5 separate regions of the Homo sapiens genome follow, and regions 1, 2, 3 and 5 are each linked to region 4. The links come from fine-mapping of genetic effects on gene expression. A gene starts in region 4. Each other region holds a variant in brackets. All regions are shown on one strand. Distances are from middle to middle.

What was found. PIP is the estimated chance that this variant, and not a neighbour inherited with it, causes the effect.
Region 1: its variant is fine-mapped to the expression of EFHC2 in whole blood (TOPMed, PIP 0.98).
Region 2: its variant is fine-mapped to the expression of EFHC2 in whole blood (TOPMed, PIP above 0.99).
Region 3: its variant is fine-mapped to the expression of EFHC2 in prostate (GTEx, PIP 0.96).
Region 5: its variant is fine-mapped to the expression of EFHC2 in whole blood (TOPMed, PIP 0.98).

Annotation. Positions count from the first base shown.
Region 1 is chrX:44,252,376-44,258,943 of GRCh38, reverse strand. All of the region lies in intron 4 of EFHC2 (EF-hand domain containing 2), which reads left to right. Among named protein-coding and RNA genes, the nearest start is that of EFHC2, 88 kb to the left of the region's middle. RefSeq lists enhancers at 4,626-5,478, 5,479-6,332. The variant T/A (reference allele first, on the strand shown) is at 2,991.
Region 2 is chrX:44,373,242-44,379,809 of GRCh38, reverse strand. No RefSeq gene overlaps it. Among named protein-coding and RNA genes, the nearest start is that of EFHC2, 33 kb to the right of the region's middle. The variant AC/C (reference allele first, on the strand shown) is at 3,600.
Region 3 is chrX:44,365,901-44,372,468 of GRCh38, reverse strand. No RefSeq gene overlaps it. Among named protein-coding and RNA genes, the nearest start is that of EFHC2, 26 kb to the right of the region's middle. The variant T/C (reference allele first, on the strand shown) is at 2,965.
Region 4 is chrX:44,341,683-44,346,682 of GRCh38, reverse strand. EFHC2 (EF-hand domain containing 2) reads left to right here and starts at 3,011. Exons shown (of 15, transcript NM_025184.4): 1 at 3,011-3,136. The coding sequence starts at 3,095.
Region 5 is chrX:44,143,834-44,150,401 of GRCh38, reverse strand. It overlaps EFHC2 (EF-hand domain containing 2), which reads left to right. Exons shown (of 15, transcript NM_025184.4): 15 at 1,506-2,530. The coding sequence ends at 1,607. Among named protein-coding and RNA genes, the nearest start is that of NDP, 170 kb to the right of the region's middle. The variant C/T (reference allele first, on the strand shown) is at 2,892.

The sequences.
Region 1 (6,568 bases), 89 kb after region 4:
AGTGTAAAAGCATTCCTATTTCTCCACATCCTCTCCAGCATCTGTTGTTTCCTGACTTTTTAATGATTGCCATTCTTTTTTTTTTTTTTAAATGGAGTCTCACTCTGTTGACCAGGCTGTAGTGCAGTGGCGCGATCTTGGCTCACTGCAAACTCTGCCTCCCAGGTTCAAGAAATTCTGTGCCTCAGCCTCCTGAGTAGCTGGGATTACAGAGGCCTGCCACCACACCCGGCTAATTTTTTTTTAAATATTTTTAGTACAGACAGGGTTTCACCATCTTGGCCAGGTTGGTATTGAACTCCTGACCTCGTGATCCACCTGCCTCGGCCTCCCAGTGATCGCCATTCTAACTGGCGTGAGATGGTATCTTATTGTGGTTTTGATTTGCATTTCTCTAATGACCAGTGATGATGAACTTTTTTTCATATGTTTCTTGGCTGCATAAATGTCTTGTTTTGAGAAGTGTCTGTTCATATCCTTTGTCCACTTTTTGATTTTTTTTTTTTTTGTAAATTTGTTTAAGTTCCTTGTAGATTCTGGATATTAGCCCTTTGTCAGTTGGATAGATTGCAAAAATTTTCTTCCATTCTGTAGGTTGCCTGTTCACTCTAATGATAGTTTCTTTTGCTGTGCAGAAGCTTGTTAATTTAATTAGATCCCATTTGTCAATTTTGGCTTTTGTTGCCATTGCTTTTGGTATTTTAGTCATGAAGTCTTTGCCCATGCCTATGTCCTGAATGGTATTGCCTAGGTTTTCTTTAGAGTTTTTATGATTTTAGGTCTTATGTTTAAGTCTTTAATCCATCTTGAATTAATTTTTGTATAAGGTGTAAGGAAGGGGTCCAGTTTCAGTTTTCTGCATATGGCTAGCCAGTTTTCCCAACACCATTTATTAAATAAGGAATCCTTTCCTCATTGCTTGTTTTTGTCAGGTTTGTCAAAGATCAGTTGGTTGTAGATGTGTGGTGTTATTTTTGAGGACTCTGTTCTGTTCCATTGGTCTATATCTCTGTTTTGGTACCAGTACCATGCTGTTTTGGTTACTGTAAACTTGTAGTATAGTTTGAAGTCAGGTAGTGTGATGCCTCCAGCTTTATTCTTTTTGCTTAGGATTGTCTTGGCTATACGAGCTCTTTTTTGGTTCTATATAAAATGTAAAGTAGTTTTTTTCTAATTCTGTGAAGAAAGTCAGTGGTAGCTTGATGGAGATGGCATTGAATCTATAAATTACCTTGGGCAGTATGGCCATTTTTATGATATTGATTCTTCTATCTATGGGCATGGAATGTTTTTCCATTTGTTTGTGTCCTCCCTTATTTCCTTGAGCAGTGGTTTGTAGTTCTTGAAGAGATCCTTCACATCCCTTATAAGTTGTATTCCTAGGTATTTTATTCTCTTTGTAGCAATTGTGAATGGGAGTTCACTCATGATTTGGCTGTCTGTCTATTATTGGTGTACAGGAATGCTTGTGATTTTTGCACATCGATTTTGTACCCTGAGACTTTGCTGAAGTTGCTTATCAGCTTAAGGAGATTTTGGGCTGAGATGATGGGGTTTTCTAAATATACAATCATGTCATCTGCAAACAGAGACAATTTGACTTCCTCTCTTCCTATTTGGATACCCTTTATTTCTTTCTCTTGCCCTGGCCAGAACTTCCAATACTATGTTGAATAGGAGTGGTGAGAGAGGGCATCCTTGTCTTGTGCCAGTTTTCAAAGGGAATGCTTCCAGCTTTTGCCCATTCAGTATGATATTGGCTGTGGGTTTGTCATAAATAGCTCTTATTATTTTGAGATACGTTCCATCAATACCTAGTTTATGGAGAGTTTTTAGCATGAAGGGGTGTTGAATTTTATTGAAGGCCTTTTCTGCATCTATTGAGATAATCATGTGGTTTTTGTCATTGGTTCTGTTTATATGATGGGTTACATTTATTGATTTGCATATGTTGAACCAGCCTTGCATCCCAGGGAGGAAGCTGACTTGATCTTGGTGGATAAGCTTTTTCATGTGCTGCTGGATTTGGTTTGCCAGTATTTTATTGAGGATTTTCGCATCAATCTTCATCAGGGATATTGGCCTGAAATTTCCTTTTTGTGTTGTTGTTGTTGTTGTGTCTCTGCCAGGTTTTGGTATCAGGATGATGCTGGCCTCATAAAATGAGTTAGGGAGGAGTGCCTCTTTTTCTATTGTTTGGAATAGTTTCAGAAGGAATGGTACCAGCTCCTCTTTGTACCTCTGGTAGAATTTGGCTGTGAATCCATCTGGTCCTGGGCTGTTTTTGGTTGGTAGGCTATTAATTACTGCCTCAATTTCAGAACTTGTTATTGGTTGGTCTATTCAGGGATTTGACTTCTTCCTGGGTTAGTCTTGGGAGGGTGTATGTGTCCAGGAATTTATCTATTTCTTCTAGATTTTCTGCATAGAGGTGTTTATAATATTCTCTGATGGTAGTTTGTATTTCTGTGGGATCAGTGGTGATATCCTGTTTATCGTTTTTTATTGTGTCCATTTGATTCTTCTCACTTTTTTTCTTTATTAGTCTGGCTAGCAGTCTATCTATTTTGTTGATCTTTTCAAAAAACCACCTCCTGGATTCTTTGATTTTTTGAAGGGTTTTTTGTGTCTCTATCTCCTTCAGTTCCACTCTGATCTTAGTTATTTTTTGCCTTCTGCTAGCTTTTGAATTTATTTGCTCTTGCTTCTCTAGTTCTTTTAATTGTGATGTTAGTGTGTTGATTTTAGATCTTTCTCACTTTCTCCTGTGGGCATTTAGTGCTTATAAGCACTAAATATATAAATTTGCCTCTAAACACTGCTTTAGTTGTGTCCCAGAGATTCTGGTATGTTGTGTCTTTGTTGTCATTTGTTTCAAAGAACTTATTTATTTCTGCCTTAATTTTGTTATTTACCCAGTAGTCATTCAGGAGCAGGTTGTTCAGTTTGCATGCAATTGTGCGGTTTTGAGTGAGTTTCTTAATCCTGAG[T/A]TCTAAGTTGATTGCTCTGTGGTCTGAGAGACTGTTTGTTATGATTTCCGTTCTTTTGCATTTGCTGAGGAGTGTTTTACTTCCCATTATGTGGTCAACTTTAGAATAAATGTGATGTGGTGCTGAGAAGAATGTATACTCTGTTGATTTGGGGTGGAGAGTTCTGTAGATGTCTATTAGGTCCACTTGGTCCAGAGCTGAGTTCAAGTCCTGAATATCCTTGTTAATTTTCTGTCTCGTTGATCTGTCTAATATTGACAGTGGGGTGTTAAAGTCTTTCATTATTATTGTGTGGGAGTCTAAATCTCTCTGTAGGTCTCTAAGGACTTGCTTTATGAATCTGGGTGCTCCTGTATTGGGTGCATATATATTTAGTATAGTTGGCTCTTCTTGTTGCATTGATCTCTTTACCATTATGAAATGCCCTTCTTTGTCTTTTTTGATCTTTGTTGGTTTAAAGTCTGTTTTATCAGAGACTAGGATAGAAACCCCTGCTTTTTTTTGCTTTCCATTTTTTTGGTAAATATTCCTCCCTCCCTTTATTTTGAGCTTATGTGTGTCTTTGCATGTGAGATGGGTCTCCTGAATACAGCACACTGATGTGTCTTGACCCTTTATCCAATTTGCCAGTCTGTGTCTTTTAATTGGGACATTTAGCCTGTTTACATTTAAGGTTAATATTGTTATGTGTGAATTTGATCCTGTCATTATGATGCTAGCTGATTATTTTGCCCATTAATTGATGCAGTTTCTTCATAGCATCAATGGTCTTTATAATTTGGTATGTTTTTGCAGCAGCTGGTACTGATTTTTCCTTTCCACATTTAGTGCTTCCTTCAGGAGCTCTTGTAAGGCAGGCCTGGTGATGACAAAATCTTTCAGCATTTGCTTATCTGTAAAGGATTTTATTTCCCCCTTGCTTGTGAAGCTTAGTTTGGCTGGATATGAAATTCTGGGTTGAAAATTCTTTTCTTTAAGGATGTTGAATATTGGCCCCCACTCTCTTGTGGCTTGTAGGGTTTCTGCAGAGAGGTCTCCTGTTAGTCTGATGGGCTTCCCTTTGTGGGTAACCCGACCTTTCTCTCTGGCTGCCCTTGACACTTTTTCCTTCATTTCAACCTTGGTGAATCTGACAATTATGTGTCTTGGGGTTGCTCTTCTTGAGAAGTATCTTTGTGGTTTCCTCTGTATTTCCTAAATTTGAATGTTGGCCTGTCTTGCTAGGTTGGGGAAGTTCTCCTGGATAATATGCTGAAGTGTGTTTTCCAACTTGGTTCCATTCTCCCTATCACTTTCAGGTACACCAATCAAACGTACGTTTGGTCTTTTCACATAGTCCCGTATTTCTTGGAGGCTTTGTTTGTTCCTTTTCATTCTTTCTTCTCTAATCTTGTCTTCACGCTTTATTTCATTAAGTTGATCTTCCATCTCTGATATCCTTTCTTCTGCTTAATCGATTCAGCTATTGATACTTGTGTATGCTTCACAAAGCTCTCGTGCTGTGTTTTTCAGCTCCATCAGGTCATTTATGTTCTTCTCTAAACTGGTTATTCTAGTTAGCAATTCCTCTAACCTTTTTTCAAGGTTCTTAGCTTCCTTGCATTGGGTTAAAACATGCTCCTTTAGCTCAGAGGAGTTAGTTATTACCCACCTTCTGAAGCCTACTTCTGTCAATTCATCAAACTCATTCTCCGTCCAGTTTTGTTCTCTTGCTGGCGAGGAGTTGTGATCCTTCGGAGGAGAAGAGGTGTTCTGGTTTTTTGGAATTTTCAGCCTTTTTGTGCTGGTTTTTCTTCATCTTTGTGGATTTATCTACCTTTGGTCTTTGATGTTGTTGACCTTCGGATGGAGTTTTCATTTGGACATCCTTTTTGTTGATGTTGATGCTATTCCTTTCTGTTTGTTAGTTTTCCTTCTAATAGTCAGGCTTCTCTGCTGCAGGTCTGCTGGAGTTTCCTGGAAGTCCAATCCAGACCTTGTTTGCCTTGGTATCACCAGTGGAGGCTGCAGAACAGCAAAGATTGCTACCTGTTCCTTCCTCTGGAAGCTTCGTCCCAGAGGGGCACCCTCCAGATGCCAGTCGGAGGTCTCCTTTAAGAGGTGTCAACCCCTGCTGGGAGGTGTCTCCTAGCAGGAGGCACAGGGGTCAGGGACACACTTGAGGAGGCAATCTGTCCTTTAGCAGAGCTCGAGCACTGTGCTGGGAGGTCTGCTGCTCTCTTTAGAGCTGGCAGGAGGAACGTTTAAGTCTGCTGAAGCTGTGCCCACAGCCACCCCTTCCCCCATGTTCTGTGTCCCAGGAAGATGGGAGTTTTATCTATAAGCCTGTGACTGGGGCTGCTGCCTTTCTTTCATAGATGCCTTACCCAGAGAGGAGGAATCTAGAGAGGTAGTCTGGCTACAAAATCATTGCTGAGCTGTGGTGGACTCCGCCCAGTTACAACTTCCTGGCAGCTTTGTTTACACTGTGAGGGGAAAACCGCCTACACAAGCCTCAGTAATGGGGGACGCCCCTCCCCCCACCAAGCTCCAGCGTCCCAGATCGACTTCAGACTGCTGTGCTGGCAGCGAGAATTTCAAGCCATCGGTCTTAGCTTGCTGGGGGGATCCACTGAGCTAGACCACTTGGCTCCCTGGCTTCCACCTCCTTTCCAGGGGAGTGAGCAGTTCTGTCTCACTGGTGTTCCAGGCGCCACTGGGGTATGAAAAAAAAAAAAAACTGCAGCTAGCTTGGTGTCTGCCCAAACAGCTGCCCAGTTTTGTGCTTGAAACCTAGGGCCCTGGTGGTGTAGGCACTTGAGGGAATCTCCTGGTCTGAGGGTTGCAAAGACCATGGGAAAAGCATAGTATCTGGGCCAGAGTACACTGTTCCTCACAGCACGGTCCCTCACGGCTTCCCTTGGCTAGGGGAGGGAGTTCCCTGACCCCTTGTGCTTCCCGGGTGAGGCGATGCCCCACCCTGCTTCAGCTCGCCCTCCGTGGGCTGCACCTACTGTCTAAGCAGTCCCAATGAGATGAGCCGGATACCTCAGTTGGAAATGCAGAAATCACCCTCCTTTTGCATTGATCTCGCTGGGAGCTGCAGACCAGAGCTGTTCCTATTCGGCCATCTTGCCAGCCACCCCCAGAAAAAGATCTTTTGTGCCAGGAATTGAGAATAAATACCAAGAACAGCTAAGAAATGTTTTAAATAATTTCCTTTCAGAGTAGGAACATCATTTTAGCATTTATTCCCTCAGGGAGAAAATTCTTCAATAAATATAGTAATCTTTGGGAAATTAGGAGTTTAATAAGAGGCTTCTATATTGACTTTCATACATTTACTTCTGCAGTGTTTGCTGTCTTGAACTGTAAAGTTAAAATTAAACAATTTAACTTAGACTGAAAAGAATCCCATATATTATCAATAATGCTTTTCTTAGAGGCCTCATAATGCCAAAGAAACATTTTTCAATCAATTGAAATAGTGGTCCCATAATTTCATTTAAATATCAGAGATAAGACTGAAGAGTCTTTGGAAAGCCATCATGTCTCCCCACTGTCTTGGGTTAAGACTGCACCTAGACTGCCCTCGACAG
Region 2 (6,568 bases), 32 kb before region 4:
GATTTGGGCACCAGATGATATAGAAGAATTCTCAGGAAGTAAGAGCCTTATTTGAATAAGATGTGATTATGATTGATTTCAAATATTTCTTTGCCTTGGAAGCTTTGACTTTGCTTTATATAGGATTGTATGTTACAGACACATCAACTACACAGCAAAGAAAAAAAGAGGTAAAAATCAGACCCATACGCAAACTCAGTACTAAAAATGTAGTTGCAATTCCACACACAACAGATGAGGTGTGGACTTAAAAAAAAAAAGTGACTGAAGTGAAGAAGAAATGTTGCCCAGAGGTGTATTTTTATTTTTGTTATTTTACTAAGTACCTGCATATAAAAATTGATATTAAAAGCAGCTGAAGCAAATTCTAATGGGTGGGGAATGATTTTAAAACAGAAACAGTGGGCCACTGCACTTTCTTGTAATTACTCATCTGGGTAAGGGCTTCAAAATGTATTAGCCATAAAGGAAAGACTTCAGACAGACATCTGCAACCCAAAATGCTTAGGCTGTTTCAATTATGATGACTATTTTAAGTATTCACTCACTCACTCTCTCTCTCCCTTTTTTTTTTTTTTTTTTTTTGAGATGGAGTCTTGCTCTGTCACCCAGGCTGGAGTGTGGTGGCGTGATCTCACCTCACTGCAACCTTCACCTCCCAGGATCAGTCGCTTCTCCTGCCTCAGCCTCCCAAGTAGCTGGGATTACAGGCACCCGCCATCACACCTGGCTAATTTTTTCCTTTATATTTTTAGTAGAGATGGGGTTTCACCATGTTGGCGAGGGTGGTCTCGAACTCCTGACCTCAAATGATCCACCCACCTTGGCCTCCCAAAGTGCTGGGATTACACCGTTTCCGATCCTTCTTTCTCTCTCTCTCTCTCTCTCTCTCTCTCACACACACACACACACACACACACCCTCAAGGCCCAAATATATGTTGATTCATTTTACTAAAAGGCCTTTGCTTTAGATCTTAAGAGATGGGAATAATGACACAAGCCACGAGGAGAGAAAAAAAAGCACCCATGAGATAAACTGTTACCTCAGTGCAGTAAAGAGTTAACATAGAGTCCTAACTGCTTATCCTTAGAAAGGCTTGCTCACAAGGTTGGCTCTTAGCTGGTATCCCAGAACTTGAATTTCAGGAGGGTTCCCACCATTTCTAGAATTGGTAAGAGTGGCTCACTGTGCCTAAACTTCATGCAAGCAATGCGGTTTATGCTGAACATCTATCTGCTTTCCTTCTGGGAGTCTGGAATTTGGGTACCTGCCAGGCAAGGGGTACTTCCATGACCAGCCCCCCAGGAAAAGCCCTGGGTGCTGAATTTCTAATAAGCTTCCCTGGTAGACATTTCAGAACTCATTGCTGGGGAAATCAAGTACATCCCTTGTGACTCCACTGGGTGAAGATTCTTGGAAGCTTGCTCCTGGTTTCCTCCAGACTTCACCCCCATGTGCCTTTTGCTTTTGCTGATTTTGCTTTGGGTCTTTTGGCTGTGATATATCCGCACCATGAGTATAACGGTATGCTGAGTCCTGTAAGTCCTCCTAGCAAATTATGGAAACTGAGGATAGTCTTTGGGGTCCCCCACTCCTCCAACAGCAGTTTGGATGCTTTTACAACCTTACTTGAAAATTATTCTTATTTAATACTCTCATACCCTCTCCTAGCATATTTTCCTCTTGGATGTGCTGCAAATATCCAGTCACAGAAGAGCCGGCGTTTAAAAACAAATTTCATTGTTACATACATAGTCCTACAAAACAAAATATAGCTAGAAGTTAAAATTTCCCCCCAAATAAGCCAGCCATTTCTGTCTAAACTTAAAGTATTAGAATATTGTAACTGACTTGATGAAAAAATCCATAGGCACTTGCCACCTTTTGGGAATATTCTGTTTCCCTGTCAAGTCACCTGCCAGACTTTCTAAAAAAGAGGAATGTCTGAGATTTCTTTTTTTCTCTTTCCCACCTGGCAAATCTCTACTCAGCCATTGTGTTAGTCTGTTCTTGCGTAGGTATAAAGGAATACCTGAGCCTGGGTAATTTATAAAGAAAAGAGATTTATTTGGCTCACGGTTCTGCAGGCTATAGAGGAAGCATGGTGCTGGCATCTGTTTCTGGTGCAGCCTCAGCAAGCTTCCAATCATGGTGGAAGGCGATGGGAAGCCAGCATGTCATATGGTAAGGGTGAGAGCAAGAGAGAGGGGAAGGTGCCACACGCTTTTAAACAGCCCAATCTTGCATGAATTAACTGAGTTAGAAGTCATTCATTACTTCAAGGAGGCACCAAGCCATTCGTGAGGGATCTGGCCACGTGACCCCAACACCTCCCACTAGGCCCCACCTCCAACATTGGGGATCATATTTCAACATGAGACGTGGAGGGGACAAACATCCAAACCATATCAGCCTTCAAAATTTATTTCAGATGTCTCCTCCTCAGTGCAGTCTTCTTTTGTAAAAAAAAATTTAACTTTTATTTTAGATACAGAGGGTACATAGGCAGATTTGTCACATGGGAATAGTGTGTGATGCTGAGGCTTGGAGTATGGATCCCATCACCCAGGTAGTAAGCATAGTACCCAATAGATAGTTTTTCAACCCTTGCTGCCCCCTCCCTCCCCGCTTTGGTAGTTCCCAGTGTCTATTGTTCTCATCTTTAAGTCCATGTGTACCCAGGGTTTAGCTCCCACTTATAAGGGAGAACATTTGGTTTTTTGTTCGCACATTAATTCGCTTAGGAGTATGGTCTCCAACTGCATCCATGTTGCTGCAAAATACATGATTTCATTCTTTTTTATGGCTGTGTGGGATTTTATGATGTATATATACTACATTTTCATTATCCAATCTACAATTTATGGGCACTTGGGTTGATTCCATGTCTTTGCTATTGTGAATAGTGCAGCAAAGAACATATGAGTACATGTATCTTTTTGGTAGAATAACTTATTTTCCTTTGAGTAGATACCCAGTAATGGGACTGCTGGATCGAATGGTAGCTCTGTTTTAAGTTCTTTGAGAAATCTCCAGACTGCTTTCCACAGTGGCTGGACTAATTAGCATTCCCACCAACAGTGTATACGCATTCCCTTTTCTCCACAACCTTGCCAGCATCTGCTGTTTTTTGACTTTTTAATAATAAACATTCTGATTGGTGTGCGATAGTATCTCATTGTGGTTTTGATTTGCATTTATCTGATGATTAGTGATGTTGAGCATTTTTTTCATATGTTTGTTGCCTGCTGATATGTCTTATTTTGAGAAGTGTCTGTCCGTGTCCTTCACCCATTTTTAATGGGGTTATTTGGGTGTTTTTTTTTTGCATGTTGTTTAAGTTCCCTATAAATTCTGGAAAATGAAATACCTAGGAGTATAGCTAACCGAGGAGGTAAAAGATCTCTACAAGAAGAACTAAAAAACACTGCTGAAAGTAATCAGAGATGACACAAATAAATGAAAAAACATTCCATGCTCATGGATTGGAAGAATCAATATCATAAATATGGCCATACTGCCCAAAGAAATTTATAGATTCAATGCTATTCCTATCAAGCTACCAACGTTATTCTTCACAGAATTAGAAAAAAAAA[AC/C]CTATGATAAAATTCATACAGAACCAAAAAAGAGCCTGAATAGCCAAAGCAATCTTAAGTAAAAAGAACAAAGCAGGAGGCATCACACTATCCAACTTTAAGCCATAATATAAAGCCCAGTAACCCAAACAGCTTGGTACTGGTACAAAAACAGACACATAGACCAATGGAACAGAATAGAAAACTCAGAAATAAAGCCACACACCTACAACCATCTGATCTTTCACAAGGCTGACAAAAACAAGCAATGGGGAAAGGATCCTCTATTCAATAAATGGTACTGGGATAACTGGATAGCCATATGTAGATTGAAGCTGGACTCCTACCTTTCACCATATACAAAAATTAACTCAAAATGGATAAATATTTAAATAAAAAACCTCAGATGATAAAAATCCTTGGCTGGGCACAGTGGCTCACACCTGTAATCCCACCACTTTGGGAAGCTGAGGCAGGTGAATCACTTGAGCCCAGGAGTTCAAGACCAGCCTGGGCAATATGGCAAAACCCCATCTCTACAAAAAATACAAAAATTAGTAGGGTGTGGTGGCTTGTGCCTGTAGTCCCAGCTACTCAGGAGGCTGAAAGGATCACTTGAACCTGGGAGGTGGAGGTTGCAGCGAGCCAAGATCGTGCCACTGCACTCCAGCCTGGGCAACTGAACAAGACCCTGTCTCGAAAAGAAAAAGAATAAAAAAAAGGAAAAGAAAATAAAATCCTATAAGACAACCTAGCAAATACTCTTCTCAACATTGGCCTTGGCAAATAATTTTTGGCTAAGTCCCCAAAAGCGATTGCAACAAAAACAAAAATAGACAAGTGGGACCTAATTAAACTAAAGAGCTTCTGCACAGCAAAAGAAACTATCGGCAGAGTAAACAGACAACCTACAGAATGGGAGAAGATATTTGTAAACTCAGAGAGGCCTTCTAAACACCGCCAGGCTAAGTGGGTCCTTCCTTTATCACTTTGCACGTTGTATTTTGTGCCCACCTCTTCTGTATACTGATCATGTTACATTAAGATGGCTTCTCTCTCTCTCTCTCTCTCTCTCCAGAACTTTGAGGTTCAAGACTATATCTAACGATCCACCAATTCCCAAAGCATACCTAAGTAGGTGACACAAAGCAGGGACCCAGAGATGATTGTTTACCATAGGGGAGGAAAAACTTCTTCCACCCTCTTAGTGTCTCTGGCTGGGTCTAAAAACTGAACTGACAAAGTGAAATTAACAGGAAAAAAATCACACAAATGTATTTAATGTAAGTTTTATGTGACATGGAACCTTCGTAAGGAAATAAAAACCCAAAGAAACTGTTAAACCTGAGCAGTCCTTTCTGTACCTGCTGTTTCTCAAATTCCTTCGGCTTAAAACATTGAACATGCCAAGGTGCCATATTTTGGGGATAGTGTGTTCTGAACTCCATCATCGCATAATATTAAATGAATCATTAGGCATCTATTTAATTCATAGATCAAATATATTTGTGTTTGAGGGACACAAATCTTTTACGAATTGTGGTACTCTGAGATATAACTGAACGATCTTGAAAATTTTTTGAAAACTGTAGAGCATTATATTACTTTTGATTTTTAGTAATTATCATCATCATTGAGAGTTTGTATTATTATTATTACTGTATAAAAACACAAGTCCTGGAATTTTGAAAATCTGAAGTTGAGCATTACTGTTCTAGCTGTTGCTGTGGAGCCAGACAATATCTCATTACACAATATTTCATCTTTTTAGAAACTGACCAAACATGATCACAGAGGAAGCAGCAAAGGGCTAACAGTTGTACTACTTTAAGGCAAACCAGGTAACAAGAAAGTACTATGGGCCAGTGGCTCTGGTCTCTTAAAGATCAACAAGGACCTCCTACTTAGCAAATACAGTGGCCTTTTCACCTTCAACTCTCTGCAGTGTCTGAAGCTGTTGCCTTCCTGTTTCTTGAGAGACTCTCTTTCTTTGCTTTCTAGGACTCTGCACTCTATTATCCACCTTCCAGTTTTTCTGTCCCTTCTCTACTTTCTTCTGTGGCTTTCCTTCCACCTCCCACCCCTTAAATGTGTTCATTCCATGATATTCTATCCATAGCCCTCTTTTCTTTCTATTCCCTCCCTTAGGAAATAAGATAGTTAACAATTATTAAGCATTTACTATTTAGTTTAATCCTCAGACTATGGTATAGGTAATATCTCCATTTAAAGATGAGGAAACTGAGGCCCAAAGAGGCTAGGTAAGCAGTCCAAGACCACATTACTCATGAGGATAGAGGCTGGGATTGAAACTCAGACAATCTGGTTTCAGAGTCCAGGCTCTTAACCACTCCATCACTCTTTCTAGGCAGCATCTATGAAGCAGGACCCTTTGGTTCAGTCTGGAAACCATTTGTAGTAGAATGCTGAGTCTGGAAGACCTGAGGATTGGCTGGTTTCTTGTGAATTCCTGAAAGGAATCTCGATCTCAAAATCAGTTTATTTAAAACAGAAGCCGCCATTTACTCTGAAGTTGTGAGACCAGGCAATTGAAAAATTCTTGGCAACACTGATCTCACACTTGTTTCCCTTATGACTTTCCTGTCTCTGTTATTAATGCTACTGTTCATGCTTTCATCAGACACCAAATCTGAGTTATCTTCGGGTCTTTCTCTTTCATTTTCCAAATCCAATCTGTTGTTTAGTTTTGAACATTCATGTATATAATTTGTCTTCCATATTCACTTCAAATCTCCCTTGTTATTTCTCATCTGTTCTCATATGTTTGTAATAATCTCCCAACCTGTCCACCTGCCTCATTTTACCTTCCTTTACCATTCTATAGAGTAGATCTCTACTGGCTGATAAATAATAGCCTCACTCCTTAGCCTCACTTATAAGCCACTTCTCAGTTTGGTGTCAAATCATCACATTCTCAGCCTTATCCTATCCCCAACTCCAACCCAACTGTTCTACCTGTCAATTCTTT
Region 3 (6,568 bases), 25 kb before region 4:
AGCAGATCAGCTAACTCTTCTGAAGGGGATAAAGGAGGAAGGCATAATGATGGAGGCTTAACAGATAAGTTGTTTGAGTTCCATGACTGTATCAATTCAAAGTAACCTCTTAACCCTCCACTTACTTTAGGTAAGACATAGACATCACAACCATCACGCATTGCATAATACCAGGCACACTGTCATCTTTTGTGAAAAATATTTAAGGGAGGAATGAACACATTTCTACCAGATTGTAAGTTCCTGAAAAGCGGGGGTGGTGGTTCTCTTAGATTGCATGCTGTAAAGTGCCCACTAAGTAATCCTTCAATTAGGTACATCTGTTAAATGCCATTGATTGGAATTAACTTTTCAGTTGGGCACATCTGAATGCAGTGGAAAGCTTATTTCAGGATTTAAGAAATATTTGCATCACTTTAAAGGAGCTTATTAAATTCTAAAAAAACATCCAATTTAAAAGCCTTTTTATTGAACCAAGAGTGAAAGTAATGAAAACCAATTTCGTGAAGTTAAAAAAACAGTGAGACTCTTAATAATAATTGTTTTTGAACTCCCTATTGCTTGACTCAATACATTTTGTCTCTAGGTAAAACTTTTCCATCCTCCTGGGAACTCCCTAGCCAATCCCAAAGTTACACAATAATTGAAGTTGTTAACTACTCTGCCAAGTGCAGATCATTTGCCTGGGAGTTTGAATCACTTTTAAAACTTGCTAATATTGCTTGTGGTGAAGGAACACTTCATGGATGGTTCAGAAAATTCCTGCAGATTCACTTCAGGTTTTTTTCTCAAGTTAAATTAAACTATTATTAAATTTCATATGTTTTGTTAGACATAGCATGTCTAGTCCAACTGTATTCTTATGAAATTACTTCGGGGTGTCTGGATGTGTTATATTCTCTATATCCATCATTGGATCTGTTGACATTGGCTAATTCCACCTGATGAGACTCTGGGGGATTTGTACTTTGATGTATTTCTTGAGTTTTTAAAAATAAAGAGCATTTCTCATTTTTATAAAATCAATTATGTCATTACTTGATTTAAAAAATTTTACTCTCTGTGTTTCAGATTCAATTCAGACAACAAAAGCCTATTGAGTTTCTACTATATGCTAAGATGCAACGTTGAACAGGATGGGGTCTATTCCCTCAAGGACTTTTTAGCTCAGCTGGAGAGAAAAACATATTCATGGACAAAACATGTATGCTGGCAGTATGCACAGGGGACAATGGGAACAGAGGAGGAGGTCTCTTAGAAGAGAGAGCCCTGGCATGACAAGGAGGACAAATAGTAATTGACCAGGAGGCTGGGGGCAGGAAAGGCAGAGGTTCCAGCATGAGCGAAGGGTTAGAGATAAGAAACGACGTGGTTTATATGGCTCACTGCAAGCCTCGCTAGGATTACTGGTGAATAACGTGCTTTTTGAGACAAGGTCTTGCTCTGCCACCCAAGCGATCTTCTCACCACAGCCTCCTGAGTAGCTGGGACTACAGGCGCCCAGTTCATTTCTATACATTTTGTGGATAGATACAGTCAGTATAGGTACAGTGCTGGGTATAGTCAGTATGGAAAGATACTAGAGAGGTGTCCAAAGGCCAGCTCAAGAAGGGCTTCTTCGCTACTCCAAGCCAGCCATGCCATGCTAGGGAGCTTAGCAGGAAATGAGGCACCATGGAAGGGTTGTGAAAAAGAAAGTGACGTGGTCAGATTTGCAATTTAGGTAAATCATTCAGGTGGTACCAGGTATGGATGCGAGGCAGGCAAGACTAGAAGCTGAGACCGCTTGGGAGGTCTTTTGCTACGATTCTTAGATTGAATTAAAGCAATGAAAGCAGGAGTAGAGAAATGAGTGGTGGGTTTGAAGCATATTTTAGTGGGTGGAATTACCAGGGCTTGGTGTTTGATTGCTGTGGAGGGTGAGAGGAGAGCCATAGGTTCATCCTCAGGTTTCTGGTTGTGTGTCTTTTGCTGAGATGAAAGACAGGAGATAAATTTCAGGGGAAAGTGTAATGAGCACTGTTTTGGACTTTTTGGATTACAGGGGCCAATGGACCACCCAAGCGGGCCCATGCAGCAGGAATTTGGATGGGGTATTCTGTAGGGGAGGAAAAAATATTTTTTTTCTTCTACCCTCCTAGGTTCTCTGTTTGGGGCTCAATAAATTAGGTTGACAAAAGACAGATTAACAAGAGAAAAGCATACATATTAACTAAATATAAGTTTTATATGACATGAGAGTCTTCAGAAGGAAATGAAGAGCAAAGAAATCATTAAACCTGAGCATCTTTATACTGGTGTGATAAAGAGTGAAGAGTCATGAAAAAGTGTGATAAGATAAAGCGGTATAAGCTAAGGATAGTTAACCGGGGGAAATTTAGCAAGGCCTGTTCATTTGGATTCTTCTTGGTGTCCCATCTTCGGAGATAAGGATGCCTCTTTCTTCTAGGTCTAGGGAGGGCACCTCTCACATGAGGGTCTTCAGACCTGCTTCAGGGGAAGGTCAGAGAGTCCTTTCTGTACCTGCTGTTTCTCAAATTCTTTCAGCTTAAAATATTCAATATGCCAAGGTGCCATACTTTGGGGTAGCATGTTTTGAGCCCTATTGATTCTAAAGCTTAGGGGACATTTCTGGGCTAGGGCATAGATTAGGAAGCACTTATGGTTAAGTGCATGAGGTCAAGTCGTATCAATCAGAGAGCATGTTAAGAAGTTATAGACTGAGGATGAGAATCAGGGAGATTGAGAGAGGAGCGTGAAGGAGACACAGAAATAACATTCAGGGGTCATGAAAAGAGGCCCCAGAGAGTGCAATGCTATTGAAGCTGGGGCACTAGGGACTTTCTAGGAGGAACTAGTGGACCCCAGTGTCAACTGCTTCAGGACAATCTAGAAGGTAAAGACAGTAAATGTCTGGGCCAGGCACAGTGGCTCATGCCTGTAATCCCAGCATTTTGGGAGGCC[T/C]AGGCAGGTGGACCGCTTGAGGTCAGGAGTTCAAGAACAGCCTGGCCTACAAGGTGAAACACTGTCTCTACTAAAAATACAAAATTTAGCCAGGAGTGGTGGCATGCACCTGTAATCCCAGCTACTTGGGAGGCTGAGGCAGGAGGATCGCTTGAACCTGGGAGGTGGAGGTTGCAGTGAGCCAATATCGTGACACTGTACTCCAGCCTGGGTGACAGAGTGAGACACTGTCTTAAAAAAAAAAGACAGTAAAATGTCCATTGGGTTTGACAATCAGGGGTTCATTTGTAACCTTTGTCAGAGAGGTTGCAGCAGGTGAAAATAAATATTCTAACCTTGACCTGCACGAGGGCAGGCCTATGGGTAATGGGAGATTTATTTCCCAACTTAAGCCAGTCCAAGTCAATTAAGCATCTTTATACAGTCATGTGTTGCTTAACAACAGGGATAGGTTGTGAGAAATGCATCATTAGGGTGATAGGGTGCGGACATCATAGAGTGTCCTAACACAAACCTAGATGGTATCGCCTACTACACACCTAGGCTATATTGTATAGCTTATTGCTCCTAGGCTACAAACCTGTGCAGCATGTGACTCTACTGAATACTGTAGACAACTGTCACACAATGGTAAGTATTTGTATTTCTAAACATAGAAAATACATAGTAAAAATATGGTATAAAAGATAAAAAAAGATACACTTGTAAAGGACACTTACCGTGAACGGAGCTTGCAGGGCCAGAAGTTGCTCCTGGTGAGTGAGCGAGTGGTGAGTGAATGTGAAGGCCTAGGACATTACTGTACACAACTGTACACTTTATATACACTGTCCACTTAGACCACACTAAGTTTATAAAAATATTTTTTCTTGGCTGGGCACAGTGGCTCACGCCTGTAATCCCGGCATTCTGAGAGGCCAAGGTGAAAGGATTTCTTGAGCCCAGGAGTTTGAGACCAGCCTGGGTAACATGGCGAAAGCCCTGTCTCCACAAAATGTATAGAAATGAGATGGGCGCCTGTAGTCCCAGCTACTCAGGAGGCTGAGGTAGGAAGATCGCTTGGGTGACAGAGCAAGACCTTGTCTCAAAAAAAAAAAAAAAATTTCTTTTTATTTCTTCAATAATCAATTAGCCTTAGCTTACTATAACTCTTTTACTTTATAAACTTTTTTTTTCATTTTCCTTGTTTTTGAGATGGATTTTCACCCTTGTCGCCCAGGCTGGAGTACAATGGCACGATCTCGGCTCACTGCAACCTCTGCCTCCCAGGTTCAAGTGATTCTCCTGCCTCAGCCTCCTGAGTAGCTGGGATTACAGGCATGCACCATCATGCCCGGCTAATTTTGTATTTTTACTAGAGACGGGGTTTTACCATGTTGGCCAGGCTGGTCTTGAACTCCTGACCTTAGGTGATCCACCTGCCTTGGCCTCCCAAAGTGCTGGGATTACAGGCATGAGCCACCGCGCCTGGCCAACTTTTTCATTTTTTAAACTTTTTGACTCTTTTATAATAAAACTTAGCTTAGAACACAAACACATTGTACAGCTATACAAAAATATTTTCTTTCTTTACATCCTTGTTCTATGAGGTTTTCTCTATTTAAAATTTTTATAAATGATTTTTTTCCTTTTTATACTTTTTTGTTAAAAATGGAGACATAGGCACACACACTAATGTGTGCTAATGCCTAGGCCTACACAGGGTCAGGCTCATCCATGTCACTGTCTTCCACCTCCAATTCTTGTCCCACTGGAAGATCTTCAGGGTCAATAACACGCATGGAGCTGTCGACTCTTGTGATAACAATACCTTCTTCTGGATACCTCCTCAATCACTTGCCTGAGGCTGTTTTACAGCTAACTTTTTTTTTTCAATAAGTAGAAAGAGTACACTCTAACATAACAATAAAATCATTTTATAGTATAGTAAATCCGCAAACCAGTAACATAGTCATTTATTATCATTATCAAGTTTTAGGTACGGTACATAATTGTATGTGCTGGATTTTTATACAAGTGGCAGCGCAGTAGGTGTGTTTACAGCAGCATCGCCACAGGCATGTGAGTAATGCATTGTGCTATGGCATCACGATGGCTACTGCGTCACTAGGACAATAATAATTTTTCAGCTTTATTATAATCTTATGGGACCGCTGTCATATATGCAGTCTGGCATTGACTGAAATGTTGTTACGTAGTGCATGGCTGTATCGCCATTGCTGGTGTGGGGAGTGCATCTTAGGGTGCCATTCCACTCAGAGTGTAGCCCTTGTAGGATCCCAGCCTTGTTTGGGCCCCGGGCGTCTTTCTTGCTCCTGCAGCCTATAGACTTTAGTAGTGTCCTAGTTACTGAGGTTGAGAAACTAACCTGGGGTAGAGCAGCTGACACCATCATTGCCTGCTCACTACTCTGATTCTCAGTATCCTCTACATTTTTGGATCCTACGAGTTTCCTTACTTTCATCAAACTCAGCTATCTATTTAAAAGGAATTTATTGCTTTTTGAATCCAGGCTTTATACATGCCTCCTAGTGTTTAAAAGGATAGCTATTGTATAATATTGCCAGAAATGAAAGCATAGTTCTTGTTCTGTACATTTATTAAATACATCGCATGTACATAGTTTTTCTTTAGCCCCACGTCTATCTTATTTTGTTGCTTTACCACCTTGCCTTGAGTTCTTCCTTTATTAAATTCTTCTAAAGCCTAAAATACTCTTGTGGGGATTTTCTTTTCTATTCCTTGTTATGAGGTATTATTCATCCAGTATGTTGCCAGGTTCAGTTATTTTATTTTATTTTTGAGACAGAGTCTCCCTCTGTTACCCAGGCTGGAGTGCAGTGATGTGATCTCAGCTCACTGCAGCCTCCACCTCCCAGGTTCAAGCGATTCTCCTGCCTCAGCCTCCCGAGTAGCTGGGACTACAGTTGCACACCGCCATGCCCAGCTAATTTTTGTATTTTTAGTAGAGACAGGGTTTCACAGTGTTGGCCAGGCTGGTCTTGAACTCCTAACCTCAAGTGATCCGCCTACCTTGGCTTCCCTAAGTTCTGGGATTACAGGCATGAGCCACTGCACCTGACCCAGGTTCAATTTTCTAATATTTTATTTAAGATTTTAGCATCTATGTTATAAGTGAGATTGACTTGTAGCTTTTTTCTTACTCTTTTCTTCGTTAACTTTTCTCTTTCCCTTTTCCACTCCTTCCCTTCCTTCCATTTTTTCTCTTTTTGTCTGGTACTCATGTTAGGATTTTGCTAGTTGGCATCACAGAGAGTTGGAAATGATAGATTTGTAAGTTCTTTAACAGTATAACAAGAGAGAACCTGTTCTTTAAAGAGCTAGGAGACATCTCTCATCAAACCTTCTGGACATGGTAGCGTTTTTGCATATTTTTGGTTACCTTTTACATTTCTTCAATAGTTATTGGTTTATTCGGGTTGTCCACTTTTTATATTAAAATTATTACATAGTCAAAGGATACAAAATTTCAGTTAGACAGGAGGAGTAAGTTCAAGAGATCTATTGTACAACATGGTGACTATAGTTAATAACAAAGCACTGTATACTTGGAAATTGCTGAAATTGCTAAGAGAGTACATTT
Region 4 (5,000 bases):
TTGCAACTTTTTACTAGCTTGAAATTATTTCAATTTAAAAAGCAACAGGGAATTTTAAAAATGTTTGTAAGAACATGTAGGAGAATAACTGTTCTTTTGGAGTAGTATAAGATTTTTGAATTCACATACAAAACACCAAACAGGCCAGGTGCAGTGGCTCATGCCTGCAATCCCAGCACTTTGGGAGGCCAAGGTGGGTGGATCACTTGAGGCCAGGAGTTCGAGACCAGCCTGGCCAACAAGGTGAAACCCCGTCTCTACTAAAAATACAAAAATTAGCCAGGTGTGGTGGTGCATGCCTGTAATCCCAGCTACTCAGGAGGCTGAGGCAGGAGAATCACTTGAATCCAGGAGGCGGAGGTTGCAGTGAGCCTAGATCACATCATTGTACTCCAGTCTAGGTGAGAGAGTGAGATTCCATCTCAAAAAATAAAAAGTAGAATAAATCAAAAAACCCACCAACCATAACTGAAAGAATGATATATTTGAGTAAAGTAACAAATTTATGTACAATAAAGAACTCTATATAAGTGGAGTTAAAAGACAAACGACAATGAGAAAATATTTGCTATGCCTCGGATTAGTATCCAGAATATCTCTATATCTATCTATCTATCTAAAAAAAAAAAACTACAAATGACCGAAGAGAAAAATCTGCAAAGGATATGAATAGCTGAGTCACAGGAGAAAGTAACAACCATGGGAAAACATGACCAACTGCTTAGGGAGAATTAGGGAGAAACAAATTAAAATAACAATAGTATACCATTCACACTTATTCAGATGATTATCCAAAATTATATAATTTGGTAATACCTATTGTTGAAAGGATGAACGGGGAAGGGGACTTTCTTAATTGGTTTATCTGTCTGTAGATCATCTAGCAAAATCTAGTAAAGATGAAGCCATGCACTCAGATATGTACGTAATTCCATCTTTCAGTATGTGCCCTAGATCATTGCCAAAGGAACAGGCAGAGTCGCTCACTGCAGCATTGTTGGTAACTAGTGGAAAATTGGAAACAATCTAATTGTCATCAACAGATGAGAGCAGATAGTTAAACAATTTGTGGTATAATCATACAATGCGTTTAAAATTAATGAACACTACATGTGTCAATGTGTAGAAATCTCAATAACAGAATTTTATTATTATTATTTTCAAGACAGAGTCTTGCTCTGTTGCCCAGGCTGGAGTGCAGTGGAGCAATCTCAGCTCACTGCAACCTCAGCCTCCCCGGTTCAAACGATTCTCCTGCCTCAGCCTCCCAGTAGCATATTAATATTCTACTAATATTTTTAGTAGAAACGGGGTTTCACTATGTTGGCCAGGCTGGTCTCGACCTCCTGACCTCTTGATCCGCCTGCCTCGGCCTCCCAAAGTGCTGGGATTACAGGCATGAGCCACCGCGCCTGGCCTCAATAACAGAATCAGGCAAAAAAAGCAAGTAGCAGAAATTTAGAGTGTAAAATTTATAAACACAGAAGCAATAATGGATATTGTTGATGAATAAAAAAGGAGATACAGTCCCTGCCCTGGAGGTATTTGGGGGCATTTAAAGAAATGTCAAGTAAACAGGTAATTACAATGTAGTAGGATGAAAGCCACGATCAGAATAGACACCAAATACAGATGGAGGCGGCAGGAAGAAGGTGAAAGAATATATTGAAGAAATGGCAATACCTTCTATGCCCCACTCCCACGCTGGCCTCAAGTCCTGAAAGACAAGAAGGGGTTACTTATGTGAAAGATAGGAAGGAAGGGTGTTTCTAGACGATAGTGTTATTTGCAAAAGCCCCAAGAGGAGAAACCGCAGAGCCTGATTTAGAAACTGCCAGTGGTTTCTCAGAGCTGGAGTAGATGGAGGAGGGGGCAAAGAAAGGGATGGAGGGCATTGGTAGGTGCCCTCTGACAAAAGCTCCTCAGACCAGGCTATAAGGAGTTTCACCACCTTCTGAAGGCGGCGGGAAGGCTAGATTATTGAAGCAGAAGAGTAACAGCTGCACCATGAATTATAAAAACGACGGCTCTGGAGGCAAGATCAGTTAGTTTTTTGTGTGTGTTTGTTTTTCTTTTTAAAGAAGAAAACCAGGCAAGAAACAATGGGATCGCAGCTGAAATAGACGAGGTGGTGACTGAGAGAGAGCATCGAGTCCAACCTTTAGGGCTTCAGGGAGGGATTAGACGTAGGTGTCGGGAGAGGAGGTTCCTGGCCCGGCTATCTTGGGGTGAACGATGGAGTGACAGGGGTTGCGATTTGTGACACCTGACTCCGCCCCGGCCACCCCTGATTGGGCCTTACAAACGTTTAGTTCAAATACAAAAATGGGCCGGACACGGTGGCTCATACCTGTAATCCCAGCACTTTGGGAGGCAGAGGCGGGAGGGCTGCTTGAGCCCAGGAGTTCGAGATCGGCCTGGGCAACATAGTGAGACCTTGTCTTAAAACAACAAACAAACAAACAAACAACAAATATAAAAATATCCAGAAGAAAAACTGAAGGCGGTGGTTACCATTACAACGCGTTTTCGTCAGGGTATATGTGGCTTTAGATTCATCTTGAACGTTTTAATTACAAAATAAAAGCTGATGTCTATGCAACATAGGAAAATATCGACTTGTGTAACATCTCAGTGAGCACACGGGCGTCATATTACTTTCTGTACTTTGCTGTGTGTTTGAACCACATAGCAAAAAACTGTTGGCGACAAGAATTGGAAAAGCAAGAAAGTACAAGAAAGGCTTTGAGTTCTATAAGGGGGTTAAACCAGAAAGCGGCGGGGGCAGGGAACAGTCAATCTTTGTGTGTGCACACTGCGTGTGCAGAGAGAAGACTCCTCAGGAGACCAGGACCTGGCTGAGTGTGTGCGGGGATGAAGCGGGTGGAGGGGAACTGGGGCTGGGGAGGAGGTACGCGCCGCGGAGGTGTCCCCCGCCCCCCACGATCCTTCTCGCCAACCCCCCGCCCCTCCTCCCTCCGTGACGCCGCTTCCCGTCTCCAGGCAACGTGGGGGCCAAACAACACGGCCGGGAGGCGCCGCTGCCTGCCGGGCCCTCTCTTCTGGGACCCTGGATTTTCGGACACTGAGCGCCATGGCCCTGCCTCTGCTGCCGGGCAACAGCTTCAACCGCAACGTGAGTAGGAAGGGCGTCCGAGGTCACAGCTCCCGGCTGGAGTCTGGGGTCCAGGCAGGGTCGTGGCGTGGCCACCTCCGCAGACTCTCCTGGAGGCCCCATGCTGCTGCCCTGGGTTGGTGGCAACTTGGACCAAACTTTATAGGCTGCTTCTCCCATCTCTCCAGCTGCATCTGAATGTTTTTCCTAATTTAGAAATATATAGAGAGAGTCCTTATAGGTGGCAGGACCCTCAAAGGTAACAAATAATAGTGACGATAACCATTGGGGGTTTAATGTGTGCCAGGCGCTGTGCTTTAATCACCTTATGCAGCATCCAGTGTCCCAACAGCCCTTTGAATTAGGTAGTTTTTATTCCCAGTTACTATTGAGGAAACTGAGGCACAGAACCACACAGTCTCAGTGGTGAAGCTGGGTTTCTTTCAAGCAACCTTGTCTCCACAGCTCAGGAGCCTAATCATTATCCCCAGTATCCTGTGTGAAAAAAGATACCGTTTCAATTATCAAATTGAAGAAATCTGGCACTTATCAAGAGGGGTAGGTGGCAGATAAGAGTTCTATCAGCCTGTAAAGTTTACTCCCAAACTTTATAGAGACAGGCACCCAAACTTGGAGGGATTTTTTTTTTCTCTATTTATAATTGGGAGGGGTTCATTTCTTTTTTTTTTTTTGAGACGGAGTCTCGCTCTGTCGCCCAGGCTGGAGTGCAGTGACCCGATCTCGGCTCACTGCAACCTCCACCTCCCAGGTTCAAGCGATTCTCCTGCCTCAGCCTCCCGAGTAGCTGGGATTACAGGCGCCCGCCACCACACCGGCTAATTTTTGTATTTTTAGTAAAGATGGGGTTTCACCATGTTGGCCAGGCTGGCCTCGGACTCCTGACCTCAAGTGATCTGCCCGCCTCGGTCTCCCAAAGTGCTGGGATTACAGGCTGAGCCACTGCGCCTGTCCTGGAGGGGTTCATTTCAAAAGAAGATGAACGTACAGAACAAAGCAACACAACACAAAAAACCCTGAGCATGAAAGAACTTTTGCCAATAAATAGCACCTCATTTAAACGACAGCAGGAAAATGATTCAGGCTTTTGTTTATACTGGTTACTACCCTTCACTTGGGTCAGCCATCTGTGTCTGCAGGAGAAGCTAATTCCCAATTAGATGGGAGGGAATTAGATGGAGCCACTCAAGGCAATTGTGTAAACCTTTGATAACTTTAGAAAGCAGGCAGCAGATTGAAGTATTTGGCTTTATGGTTTCCAAACACTGTCTGTATCTAAGTTGTTGGCCCTGAAGTACAAGTTTTTTCTTTGTAGCTTCACGCCATTGAATTCTGACCCCTACACGTCTGGTCAGTCCAACTTTGAACACTGATTTGTGCATTTCTTGGTTGATGGGCAGAGGCTGGCCTTCCAGCATAGCATTGCCCTTTGGTAAGTTTAAGCCAGTCACGCAAACAAGAAAGGCCCCTGAGAGACGGGACATGAAAACAGATTCCAGAAGTAAAGAAGCATGCTGTGTAAAAGTAATTTTAATAAAAAATGAAAGTAAAGCCTACAGCTTTTTGCCCAGCAACACTCTGATTACCAGTGCCTGCCTCCTGCAGAAGTATCATAGCTCTCACGTGCAGTGATTAAGGATGGGAAGGAAAAACAGTGGATGGATGAAATATTAATAAATCTGCAAGGTTCTGCGTATATTTTTGCTTTTTAAAAAACTTTAAGATCATGAAGTACAACACATATACAGAAAGATGCACAATGGATGATCACAAAATGAATATCAAGAAATTAAATATGGGGGCTGGGCGCAGTGGCTCACGCCTGTAATCCCAGCACTTTGGGAAGCAGAGATGGGAGGATCCCTTG
Region 5 (6,568 bases), 200 kb after region 4:
CTGGGCTACTCACCCTTTCTTGAAAATAGATTTTAGATCTCCAGGCCTTTGCTTACGCTGGTCCCTATGCCTGGAATACCCTTCACAACCCTAAACCCTCTGCTGAACTGTTTTTCATCCCATAAGGTGCAACTGAATCACCACTTATTCAGCTTGCTTCCAAAATTCCATCACATCAAATTATTGAGCCTTTACCTATGTTTCTGTGACACCTTGTGATTCTGGATACTAATGTAACACTAGTAAAGATATAGAACCTCTTATATACAACAATTAACCTTGACAGTCATATTTTAACCTTGAAAGTAGAAATATAAGCAACCATATGTATGAACTTTGCCTCCTGTTGATATTAATTAACCATTGAGGCATATGCAAAAAGTTTGTGTGTGTGTATATACACGTATTTATGTATTATATAAAATGTGCATCTGTGTGTGTATATGTGTACACACACACACACAAATAAAGTGGCTTATCTGCAAGATCATACTGTGAGTGATCCAGTGTTCTTTTCATTGTTTACTGAAGAAACAGTAACCAATCAGCCAGTATAGATACCAGTTTGTATTTTAAAAATTGGGTTCTTTAGGCAGCAGTTCACGTCTGTAATTCCAGCACTTTGGGAGGCTGAGGTGGACATATAACTTGAAGCCGGGAGTTTGAGACCAGACCAGTCCGGCCTATATGGCGAAACCCGTCTCCTAGAAATACAAAAATTAGCCGGGCATGGTGGCATGTGCCTGTAATCCCAGCTACTCGGGAGGCTGAGGCATGAGAATCACTTGAACCCGGGAGTTGGAGGTTGCAGTGAGCAGAGATTGTGCCAGTGTACTCCAGCCTGGGCAACAAAGTGATACCCTGTCTTTAAAAAAAATAATAAAATAAAAATAAAAATTGGGTTCTTAAGAAAGTATAGGAGGATCTATCAGCGTATTCATGCTGCATAACAACTCCTTAAATTTCAATGGTTCACAACAAGACACATTTCTTTTTCTTGTCTATGGGCATGTAGGTCAGTGAAGCATGGCTGGATTCAGCTAAGCTTGGCTCTTAGTCCGCAAGTCCAGCCTGGTCTGATCCACCTTGGTCATTCTAAGAACAGCAGCATCCTGGGCCATGTTCTTTTCATGGTGATGGCAGAGGCACAGAAGGCCAAGCCAAATGATGCCAGCACGCTAGAGCCTCTGTCCATGATATGTCTGCTAATAGTACATAGGTCAAAGCCAGTCATGTGGCCAACCCCATATCAAAGGAACAGGAAAATATACCCTTCTTACTCCACAGGAGGTTCTACAGAGTCATATGACAAAGAGTGTGGGCACATAATTCTTATACAGGGAGGGAATGAAGAATCAAGAACAAGTATCCAGTAGACCACAAAGTCCTTATGAACCTAAAGTAGATGGTAGAAATTTTCACTTTGCAAATAAACTGGTGTTGAATTTTCAAAACTGTACTTTGAAATGTGGTTCTAATCATATCCATTTTTGGTTTTTTTCTAGAGATGTGAAGATGTTTGGCTTGGTATGCCATCACCTATTCCTGCGAAATACATTGACTACTGGACCTTTTTGAAGGACGCGTTTGGCTTAGAGGAGGAATAACCATGCCAGTTTTGGTCAATTCTCTATGATTTACTTCTCTCATTTTGCCACATTTACTTTAGTAGATATAATTTCATTAAAAACAAAAAAGAAACAAGGTTTATATTAAATGGAAATCCATAAACCACAATTAATCCTATTTTGTCATGTTAGTTTTACAGAACATCATGTTACATTGCCGACGTACTGTTACTATTTAAAATGCCATCTTAAAACATGTTGAATATTTTTATTATATGTATGGTTTATTAATACCAAAAAATCTTCTGATAATTTTTGATCCAACATAATTTGATTCATTACTATATGAACAGAAAATGACTTTTGAAGGTTATACATGACAATACAAAATCAAATTATATCACAGCAATAAGTTGTGATTCTATTAAACATTTTTGAAACCTTTTTGACACGTTTATTACTTACATAATTAAGTTTTGTAGCAACCCACCTCATCAAAATAATTCTTAAACCTCTCTAGAGTAAATATATTTATCTTTTGAACTTAGTAAAGCTATGGGAAGAAAAAGAACCTCCAACACACACACACACACACACACACACGCACGTGCACACACACTGGAAACATATGCAGTATTTATATTTGTAATGCCCTTTTTTCTATCTAAAGTCAGCTTGTTAGCTTAGGAATATATGCATGTGTGTATAATTATAGTTTGACCAAAACTTTATTATGTCTAAAATATTTACAAATGTGAAAGCTGAAGATTTTGAGATTTTTGTTTTTTTTTTGGTTTGTTTTACACACACATCCCACGCGCCCCACCCTAGAGGTTTAAATATTCAGAAACTACAACATTTTTCCCCTGCATTTTTCTAGTTCTATTTTTATTTTTCTTCAGCAGAACTCTTGTCATGTAGTGTACATTTGATTAAAACCCATAGCCATGTACCTCTGGGAATTCAGTGTAAGAAGTCTATCCCAGTCTATGCCATTGTTCAGTGTTGGATGCTATGTATCATAAATCCATTTGCCTGGTGTTCTGGGAGACAATGGAGGTCTCAAAAAGGAGCTGCACCATTTACCTTTCAGGGACTACCCTGAGAAAAAGAAGAGCTGATGACATCTCAAGGGACCCTTCGGACTCATTATTCTTTCACTCCACATTTGCAGCAGTGTCTTGCTGGCTTCTTGGCACTCAAATGTACCAATTTATTCTCCACAACAATGGCCCTTTCATTTTTAAAAAATTGGAGTTAATCAATAAACGATTTCTATATGTAAGCCTAGGATAATTCCACATGTGCTATTGTTAGAATAGA[C/T]GCTCCTCCCAACCCTTTCAGGACTTAACACTAAACTAGTATACTCAATTTATATACTAAAACTATCTACCATAAATCCTAAATTTGACTACTTGATTTTTGTCCCAGGTTTTTTTTAAGGCAACTGACAGTGCCAAGCCATTTTGTCACTTTAAGATTTTTCATTCCCCAGAGAGCAGGCTTTTAGAAGGATGACACTTTCCTGGAACTTTTCAAGCTGACACATTCGTCACTTACCTATTCAACTCTTCAGTCAGTTGTCTTTCCTTCAAGAGTTTAAATACGTAGATAATTTAGCCCTTGTAGAGGCTCATAATGTAGTTCATTTGAGAAGTGGGGGGAGAAAAAGAAAGGAAGCAAACCAATGACAATGCTCCTGAGTTGTGGGGTGACAACTGCTTATTCTATTGCATAGATGTGTGTTACTGCCCTGGTTGTTTCTGGTTCAAGCCCACAATTAGCAATGAAATGGCCATTATAGGATTCATGCCGATAAACATGATACGTTGCAGCCATACAGACACTTTAAATAATCATTCTTTTTATAACTAAGCCATATACTGGACAAGATTTATAATTTAGAGATAATATCCCCATTAGTAAAGTTTATGACCCAATAAACAGCTCCCACTAGTTAATAAATGCCAAAGCCATAAAAACAAAGACTATTAATGTAATAGAATTTCTGTACCTCCCTCTTTTGCTGGTGGTCTCAAGACACTGAAGGGAAATGCTATCTTAGGAAAAACATTTATTCTCGTTATGTAAATATCAGTGAATTGTCTTACAATCCATCTGGAAGTCTCCCAGCCCCCCTTGGTCCCAGGTGGTCCTGAAATGCTGATGCATTCTGCTTAGGTTTCAAGCAGTAGATAACTCTGGCTTTCAGCACAAATAAATCCCGAGACTAAAATTTTGGGGGGAGGAGGACTGGAATTTCTGCCTCTTCTCTTCCCTCTGCAAAAGAGAAATCCCAACTATTGTCATTGTTCCAGGGTAATAATTTGAAAGAAGTTTCACAACCTTTCCATATACTTATATTTTCAGCTGCTAACATGATCTCATTTTGATGAAAAAGCAAGTGCCACCTTTGGATGTCTGGGTGAGTTGAAGGTTAATATAGGCAAACCTTTTGTCCTAAGAACTAATTGTTATTTAGTATTCTTGGAACTGTGGGAATGATTGATAAAGCCATTTGAAAACCCAAATCAAATCATGTCTTTTCATACAAAACTGATTAAAAGCTGTTGAAGTTCACATTAAGTGGTTTGCTGAGGCACTGTTGTGAGGTATGATGTCGCCAGCAGAGGATTAATTTGCAGTACTTATTTGCCTTTTATTACCTTTTTTACCTAACCACTTGAAAAGTAATGTGGGTAAGTCTGTTGGTTTACTTTAGCTTAAGTTTACTAAAATGGTTAAAATTTTAGACAACAGAGGGGAGATTTGTAACTTTCAAGCATTATAATAGTTTAAACATTTTGCCTACTTTATTTCCTGTATTGCCTTTGGTTCAATTACTGACAAATATACTATTCTTGTTATTTTTTTTTTTTTAAACGCTAGAGTATTTGAAGTTTGATTATTTGGAGTCATAGAGCTTCCAGGCTTTATGGACCCCTCAGTCATGAGTTTAGAATATTTAAATTGCCCTTCCTTCTTTCAAATAGGGCATTATTGATGAGTAAAATGAAATCTCAAATCAATACAAAACACAAAACTCTTGCCTTTCCAACTGGAATTTATCTTGAGTTGGGGTTGCTTCCTAGCCTTTTCTATTTATTTCTTCTTTCTCCTTTCCCTTCCACCACACATTATGATTTTGCTATAAGTTTAGTAGTTGGAGTCATAACGAAATAGGGCCTTCCACAAAATATTTATGATATTGAATAATGCAGAATCCATTATAATAAAGTGCCATGCTCTCAATTACATGTACATTCATTTTAGTTATGAGTATAGATCCCTGAATTTTCAATACCCTAAAAAACGGTCTGTAAATGACCTTTCAGACAAACAGCTTCCCAGTGATGGTAGAAACATATACACGAGTGATGTGTCTCTGCTCTAATGTTTGTTTGGGCAAAGTCTGAATTGCTTCAAGTTGAAGGCAGGTTAAGACCTTTTCAAAAATGAGTGTTTTCAAGTTGACTGAGCATCTTCAGAGACACCGTGCTTTTCAATTCCCAAGAGAATGTAATGTGTAAAAATGGAAAGCCCACTGAGGCAAGATCAATGAGGCTGTTTAGAAAATAATAAACCTGGAGCGATAATGGAGCAAACATTCATTATTACAAAGGGTAGGGCTGACTGTGCAATTAGTTTAAGAGAATTTTGTAACTCACCTCCTCCGCTTATTCTACCAGGTTATACATATTGGTTTAAATATACATTTTCATTCAAGGTCAATTAAGTTCCCTAAAACTAAGAGTTCTGAGACATCTTTGTCAACAGAGTGGCTAGAATATGCATCTTCTTTGTAATTTGTTCCTGGTCCCCAGTAAAATTCCTTGCAAGGGGACTTTCAAGCCCATTATGTGTCTGGTGTGTGGTACACACAGGAGCCCGGGGTCAGCACTGCTGCTCAGAAGCAACTTGGTAAAAGCTAAAAAAATGTGGCCGATGAAAAACTCCACAGTGGCTCTGCAAGCAGAGAATTAATGACTCGCTGGAATCAGTAGGAGCCTTTACTTCTAAATACTCATTAGTTAAAGCAGTGAGGCCTGATGTTATGCAAGTTAGAGAGGGAAAGGGGGGACTGCCCCTCCCCATTGTCTATTTTGAACAGAATATGCACATTTAACTCAAAGTGCTGAATGATTCAAATACATCAAACCCACTATTCATCAGTCTCCTAGCTTCCTGAGCACCACTTTGCATCTGTGTAAAGCCAACAATAGAGGAAAGCTTGTTATGACCCCACTATAATATTAAAATCCAGAGGAGCTGATAGCTTGGTGAAAACATAAAAATGCATTCTCCTTTAGAAATACTTCCACCAAAGTCATCTTTGTGTTTCTTTTTTCCTACTTTGCCTATACAACAAGAACCTCTGACTGAAATAGGAACTTGATAACATTACTTTTGCCTGCTTTTTTCTCCTGTGCTACCACTGGTCATTATTGCTGTGAGGCCACCCGTTGAATAAAGAACAGGAGCTGAACGGCCATTTCAGGCGCCTGCGAATACCCCCAGTTTTAACTATGACTGGAGCTAGGAGAGTGAGAAGGGAAGTGGCAAAAGATGACCATTTTAGAGGGGAGTCGGGACAAAAATAGGGACCACCTTGTGTGTGACTCATGTTGAAGAGTTTGCACTTCATCCCAAGGGAATGAGAAGTTTCTGAAATATTTTAATCTGGGGAATGGAAAGATCATGTCTGTATTTAAAAATCTCTGGCTGCTTTGTGTGTGTGAACTCTAAGAGTGTGTTTGGCGGCAAGAAGACTGATTAGGAGACTGTTGCCAGAGAAGTGATGGGTAGTTTGGATTAATGTAATGTTGGTGAGAAGTGGAGGGATTCACGATGCATTTGGGATGTTGGAGATGAGGGAGAAGAAATCAAAATTATGACTGGGTCATTTTCACAGCTGGATAGATGGTGTTGCCTTTCATTGTGCTGGGATACATGAGAGAAAAATCAAGTGAAGGGAGAATATCAAAAATTCTGCCTTGGGC